Linked DNA regions of Homo sapiens. The protein of the gene in region 2 interacts with the protein of the main gene of each other region in a pairwise test. Each region holds a gene or a part of one and is shown on either strand. Other genes may lie near its edges.

Region 1 (3,500 bases), on a different chromosome or scaffold from region 2:
GGTGACAAAGCGAGACGCCATCTCAAGAAAAAAGAAATGTCATCAGTGAAAGGAATGGAAACAGTAGGTAAATTCCCAGATAAGCAGGATCGACTGACTTGGCGGGTATTTGCAGTAAATACCCAACACTCTGATTAGCCTGGTTTGGTTTCATATTAGTAGATGTGCTAAGTTCAATTTTCATGCTTATGAGCGACTTTGTGCAAAGTTACTAAATTATCTTAGGTTTTCAGCCTTATCTAGGAAGTAAGGATGTTATCAGATAACCTTTGTTCCCTGACCTCTATAAATAAAAGCTTAGTAAATGGATGAAAGAAACCCTTACGAATTTCATTCAAGAAACACTAATTTACACTGTGCAATTTTAAAAAGCCAGGTCAATTATTATATAAAATGCTGGAGCAGAGCACTAGGCATTTTTCTGAAGGGAATCATATCCTTCTTCATATTGTCAAAGGACATTATGATCTGTATGTTAAGAACCACTGAGGCTGGAGGACTGCTAGAGGGCAGGAGTTCAAGACCAGCCTGGGCAACACAGCAAGATTCCATCTCTACTAAAAATAAAATAAAAATTAGCTGGGTGCTTGAACTCAAGAGTTTGACAATGCAGTGAGCTATAATGATGCCACTGCTCTCCAGCCTGGGAGACAAAGTGAAACTTGTCTCAAACAAAAACGCAAAAAGAACCACTGAGTGAGACATAAAGTAGAGTGAATGGCCAGATGAAGATGAACTCTCTCTATGCTGTATGAAAAATCAGAGGTGGCAGGTGATCAATTCTACATTTTAAAATTCCATCATTTAAACAGCACTGATTTATGATACACAATTATTTTTACATGTGTATACATAATTTGCAATAAGCTATTAATCTTAACTAAAAATATTTTATCTGATATTTTAATGTTCTTTATAAATTCTGCATATTTTGAATTACAAGCTATATAAAGATCACTACTGTACTCCCAAAACATCTAAGTCAAAGTAAATATGGACCAGGTGCAGTAACTCACACTTGTAATCCTAGCACTTTGGGAGGCCAAGGCAGGTGGATCCCTTGAGCCCAGGCGTTCAAGACCGGCCTGGGCAATATGGCAAAACCTTGTCTTTACTAAAAATTAAAAAAAAATTAGCCAGGTGGGGTGGCAAACATCTGTAGCCCCAGCTACTTGGGAGGCTAAGGTGGGAGGATCACTTAAGCCTGGGATGTTGAGGCTGCAGTGAGCTGTGATCACACCACTGCACCAGCATGGGTGACAGAATGAGACCCCTGTCTAAAACAAACCAAAAAACCCACAAGAAAAGCAAGTATTAGTGTGTGTAGAATGCTATATATGCATAAGTATGCTCTCATATAGAAAGATCTCTGAGGTTGCACTTTCTATCTTTAAGAAGACAACAGGTTTATATTTTATTTAAACTTACTTGGGAAAATTGCATTAAGAAACTCTATTTCTTCCTGGAAATTCCGGTGTGGGTACCCTTGGTGAGAAGGCTTCATGAAATTCTTACGAGAATAAAAGAAGCTCTTTATTAAAAAAGAAAAGAAAGAAAAAAAAAGATGACTTTAGATGTAGAATTCTATCACTTTTCGAAGCTAATCAACTATTGTCCACATATCAAAAACTCGGCAAAATCAAAACTCAAATATTTTAGCTTGGCATGGTAGCATATGCCTGTAGTCTCGCTATTAGGAGGCAGGAGGATCACTTGGCCCAGGAGTCCAGCCTGGGCAACATACTGAGGCCCCATCTCTCTCTCTCTCTCTTTTTTTTAAAAAGCCCAGTCTAGTGATGATGGGTCATAACAACTATTAACACCAAGTATATTCCTTTCTAGAACAGTAGTTTCTAAACTGAGCTTATTAATAGTCATATAAGCAAAAATTTGGGGGGAATAACATATTAGTTTTAAGCATCGGTTAAGCACACATTGCTTTAGATTTCTTACAAGGATCAATTCATAACAACAAAAACTGTATTGAGTACTAATGACAATCCATCCTTTCCTTATGAAGTTAAAGATTAAAATTCAGGCCGGGTGCAGTGGCTCACGCCTGCAATCCCAGCACTTTAGGAGACTGAGGTGGGTGGAACACCTGAGGTCAGGAGTTAAGAGACCAGCCTGGCCAACATGGTGAAACACCGTCTCTACTAAAAATACAAAAAAAATTAGCCAGGCATGGTGGTGGGCACCTGTGATCCCAGCTACTTGGGAGGCTGAGGCAGGAGAATCACTTGAACCTGGGAGGTGCAGATTGCAGTGAGCTGAGATCGTGCTATTGCATTCCAGCCTGGGAAACAAGAGCGAAACTCCATCTCAAAAAAATAAAAAATAAATAAAATGTAACAACTGCTAATCAGAAAATTATACCCTAGGTAAAAACACCTTAGTTCTTGAAAAGTATAAGAATTTAACTCAATACTGACTGTTGCTCTTCATCCTAACTCTTCATTATAAAGACTGGACAATTTCAGTAACGACATTTTTCTTGCTTTTCCTTCTTTTCTTACCATTTCTCTATTATTATAAGTAGCCATGTTAAGAAATTAACTACTGGAAGTGTCTGGCTTCTTCATTTCTTTCTCCCATTTGAATTTCATCCTAACTCATTCTCTGCTTCCTATTTTCTGCTGTTCTTGAGAATCAGATCTCTTCCTAAGGTATGAACACCTTACCACGTGTTTGCATGCATTGTAACAAAGGCAGTAAGTATATAAATTTATTTACTTCGCATATTACAGGATAAGAACGCTAACATTTATGCCTGAAAAATATTTAAATGTTTGCTTACTTACTTGAATTGAGTCAAACCCACTGTAATCCCTAGCAAGCTTCAACAGGGGAACCAGTGCTTTCAGCAAGAGGGTGGTACCACATGTCTTCAAAATGAAACGTCTCTTGGAGACAAACATGCTACTCTCACTGCAGTTGAAAAAAGTCACAATATTATAACAATACTAATGTACTACTGAGGGTGCAATCAACCAATTTAATTATCATTTACAATTTTGGCTAGTACTTTTAAATATTAGGATCTCAAGGAAGCAAGTAACACATTATTCTTTTCCTTTTCTAGTATACAAAACATCCCCAGGGCTTGGCACATGGTAAGCATTTTGATAAACATTCGTATATTCATAATATAAACTTAGTTTAAAAAAAAAAAAGAGAGAGGCCAGGCACAGTGGCTCACACCTGTAATCCCAGCACTTTAGGCGGCCGAGGTGGATCACCACGTCAGGAGTTCAAGACCAGCCTGGCCAAGATGATGAAACCCCGTCTCTACTAAAAATACAAAAATTAGCCGGGCACAGTGGCAGGCGCCTGTAATACCAGCTACTTGGGAGGCTGAGGCAAGAAAATCGCTTGAACCTGGGCGGCAGAGGTTGCAGTGAGAGGAGATTGCGCCAATGCACTCCAGCCTGGACAGACTGAGACTCCGCCTCAGAAAAAAAAAGGGGGGGAGGGGCTGTTTAGTCCAGTATCCCCCAGCA
Region 2 (3,500 bases):
TTGTTTTGCTTTTACAGTTGATTATTTTAAGGGGAGACATTTAATTATTTCTAATTACTTTTTGTCATTTGTCCTGTAGGTTCCCCCTAAAGGACTCAAAACGTCTAATCCAATGGTTAAAAGCTGTTCAGAGGGATAACTGGACTCCCACTAAGTATTCATTTCTCTGTAGTGAGCATTTCACCAAAGACAGCTTCTCCAAGAGGCTGGAGGACCAGCATCGCCTGCTGAAGCCCACGGCCGTGCCATCCATCTTCCACCTGACCGAGAAGAAGAGGGGGGCTGGAGGCCATGGCCGCACCCGGAGAAAAGATGCCAGCAAGGCCACAGGGGGTGTGAGGGGACACTCGAGTGCCGCCACCAGCAGAGGAGCTGCAGGTTGGTCACCGTCCTCGAGTGGAAACCCGATGGCCAAGCCAGAGTCCCGCAGGTTGAAGCAAGCTGCTCTGCAAGGTGAAGCCACACCCAGGGCGGCCCAGGAGGCCGCCAGCCAGGAGCAGGCCCAGCAAGCTCTGGAACGGACTCCAGGAGATGGACTGGCCACCATGGTGGCAGGCAGTCAGGGAAAAGCAGAAGCGTCTGCCACAGATGCTGGCGATGAGAGCGCCACTTCCTCCATCGAAGGGGGCGTGACAGATAAGAGTGGCATTTCTATGGATGACTTTACGCCCCCAGGATCTGGGGCGTGCAAATTTATCGGCTCACTTCATTCGTACAGTTTCTCCTCTAAGCACACCCGAGAAAGGCCATCTGTCCCCCGAGAGCCCATTGACCGCAAGAGGCTGAAGAAAGATGTGGAACCAAGCTGCAGTGGGAGCAGCCTGGGACCCGACAAGGGCCTGGCCCAGAGCCCTCCCAGCTCATCACTTACCGCGACACCGCAGAAGCCTTCCCAGAGCCCCTCTGCCCCTCCTGCCGACGTCACCCCAAAGCCAGCCACGGAAGCCGTGCAGAGCGAGCACAGCGACGCCAGCCCCATGTCCATCAACGAGGTCATCCTGTCGGCGTCAGGGGCCTGCAAGCTCATCGACTCACTGCACTCCTACTGCTTCTCCTCCCGGCAGAACAAGAGCCAGGTGTGCTGCCTGCGGGAGCAGGTGGAGAAGAAGAACGGCGAGCTGAAGAGCCTGCGGCAGAGGGTCAGCCGCTCCGACAGCCAGGTGCGGAAGCTACAGGAGAAGCTGGATGAGCTGAGGAGAGTGAGCGTCCCCTATCCAAGTAGCCTGCTGTCGCCCAGCCGCGGTCAGTACCGGAGCCTCGCGTACCCATGTTCCCTTCCCGTTAGGAGGGGTTTCTCTGCAAGGTGGCCAGCGTCCCCTGAGCATTTCTGGGAGGTGTCACAAGCTCCCTGCGCTCTCAGGAGGAAGCTCTGGTCGTAACCATACCTTGTGGATGAGGGAATCCAGGTTAGAAAGCAGGCCTCACTGCACCTGGTCCCACAAGAGGCATCTGTGTGTGTAGGGATGTAGGCCGTGAAGGAGGCAGGCAGCACGCGTCAGCCAGGAGTGCCTGAACGCCTCCGTGGAGAGTGCACAGGGAAAGATAGCTTCTGTTTCATACCTTATGCAACAGAAATTCCAGATGAGTTAGGAACTAGATGGAAAATAAGAGAGTAAACTCTCAGAAAAAGCAAATATCAGAAACTGTTAAAATCATGAGGAGGTTCTTTCTGTTCACGTTTTAAGGAATATCCTTGAAGTTAAATCATCATGAACATTAATAATTATTTTAACATCTATTCAATTAAAACATCTGTTGAGGCTGGACTCGGTGGCTCACACCTGTAATCCCAGTACTTTGGGAGGCTAAGGTGGGCAGATCACTTGAGGTCAGGAGTTCGAGACCACCCTGGCCAATATGGTGAAACATACAAAAACATACTACTAAAACATACAAAAACTAGCTGCACATGGTGGTGCACGCTTGTAATCCCAGTTATTGGGGAGGCTGGGGCAGGTGGATTGCTTGAACCTGGGAGGCAGAGGTTGCTGTGAGCCAGGATTGCACCACTTCACTCTGGCCTGGGTGACAGAATAAGACTCTGTCTCCAAAAAAAAAAGACACACATCTATTGAAACACATTCTCAGCCGGGCATGGTGGCACACTCCTGTAATGCCAGCTACTCAGGAGGCTGAGGCAGGAGAATAGCTTGAACCTGGGAGGCGGAGGTTGCAGTGAGCTGAGATGGCACCACTGCACTACTCTTTGTCAGCCTGCGTGACAAAGAGCACAACTCTGTCTCAAAAGAGAAAAAAAAAAAAAAAGAAATACAATACATTCTCTGTTGCAAAAATTAAAACTGCAGAAATAGACTAAGAAGTGGTAAAAAAATTATTGTTTGTCATCCACCTCCCAAGTTCTATTCCTTGTTGTTATTAAAAATTTGGTGTGTAAGCCAGGCACAGTAGCTCTTGCCTGTAATCTCAGCACTTCGGGAGGCCGAAGAGGGAAGGTTACTTGAGTCCAGAAGTTCAAACCAGCCTGGGCAACATAGGGAGACCCCATCTCTATAAATAATTTAAAAATTAGCCGAGTACCATGGTGCACGCCTGTGGTCCCAACTACTTGGGAGACTGAGGCAGAAGGATAGCTTGAGCCTGGGAGGTCGAGGCTGTAGTGAGCTGTGATTGCACCACTGTACTCCAGCCTAGGTGACAGTGAGACCCTGTCTCAAAAAACAAAATTTCCTGTGTAATCTTTGTATGTATATTAGCTCTATTTCTGTTTTTTCCCATATTTTACTGTTAAGTATTTCTTAAAATTGGTTTCTAGATGTTTACATATGGCGGATGGTTTCCTTTGCCTGTCGTGTACATAGGAAAACCATATTCCTACCACATTGTTGATTTCATCTGGATCAATGCTTGTCAATAAGTATATGATAGTGGGACAAGATTTTCAGGACCTCCTGGATCCTCAGGGTAACAGCTATTAGCACAACCGAAAACAAAGCCCATCCGACATGTTCTCCAGATGTGTCCTGGGGAGGAACGGTGCCACTGAGTACTGCTGACCTAGATTTTCAGATCAAATCTAGATTTTCGGATTCTTGGGTTGAAATTGTATACTGTTTTTCTCTTGGAATTTTATTTTATTTTTTGAGATGGCATCTCACTCTGTTGCCGAGGTTGGAGTGCAGTGGTGAGATCTCAGCTAACTGCAACCTCTGCCTCCCGGGTTCAAGCAGTTCTCCAACCTCTGCCTCCTGGGTTCAAGCAATTCTCCTACCTCAGCCTCCCAAGGAGCTAGGATTACAGGCCCCTATCACCACACCTGGCTAATTCTTATATTTTTAGTACAGATGATGTTTCACCATGTTGGCTACAGTTGTGAGCCACCACACCAGGCCTTCTCTCGGAATTTTTTTTTTTTTTTTTTGAGACGGAGTTTTGCTCTTGTTGCCCAGGCTGGAGTGCAATGGTGCAATCTTGGCTCACCGCAACCTCCACCTCCCGGGTTCAAGCAATTCTCTTGCCTCAGCCTCCCGAGTAGCTGGGAT

Evidence for each region. Proteins that work in one complex are often made in the same cells at the same time.
Region 1: the proteins of THAP4 (region 2) and AMD1 interact in binary tests that used the Homo sapiens proteins (3 or more experiments, as listed by UniProt).

What each region holds. Positions count from the first base shown.
Region 1 is NC_000006.12:110,888,285-110,891,784, reverse strand, and holds part of AMD1 (S-adenosylmethionine decarboxylase proenzyme), read right to left. Parts: intron 3,450-3,500; exon of another isoform or gene 3,379-3,449; intron 2,929-3,378; coding exon 2,802-2,928; intron 1,532-2,801; coding exon 1,429-1,531; intron 1-1,428.
Region 2 is NC_000002.12:241,630,659-241,634,158, reverse strand, and holds part of THAP4 (peroxynitrite isomerase THAP4), read left to right. Parts: intron 1-79; coding exon 80-1,242; intron 1,243-3,500. UniProt on the Homo sapiens protein: Heme-binding protein able to scavenge peroxynitrite and to protect free L-tyrosine against peroxynitrite-mediated nitration, by acting as a peroxynitrite isomerase that converts peroxynitrite to nitrate.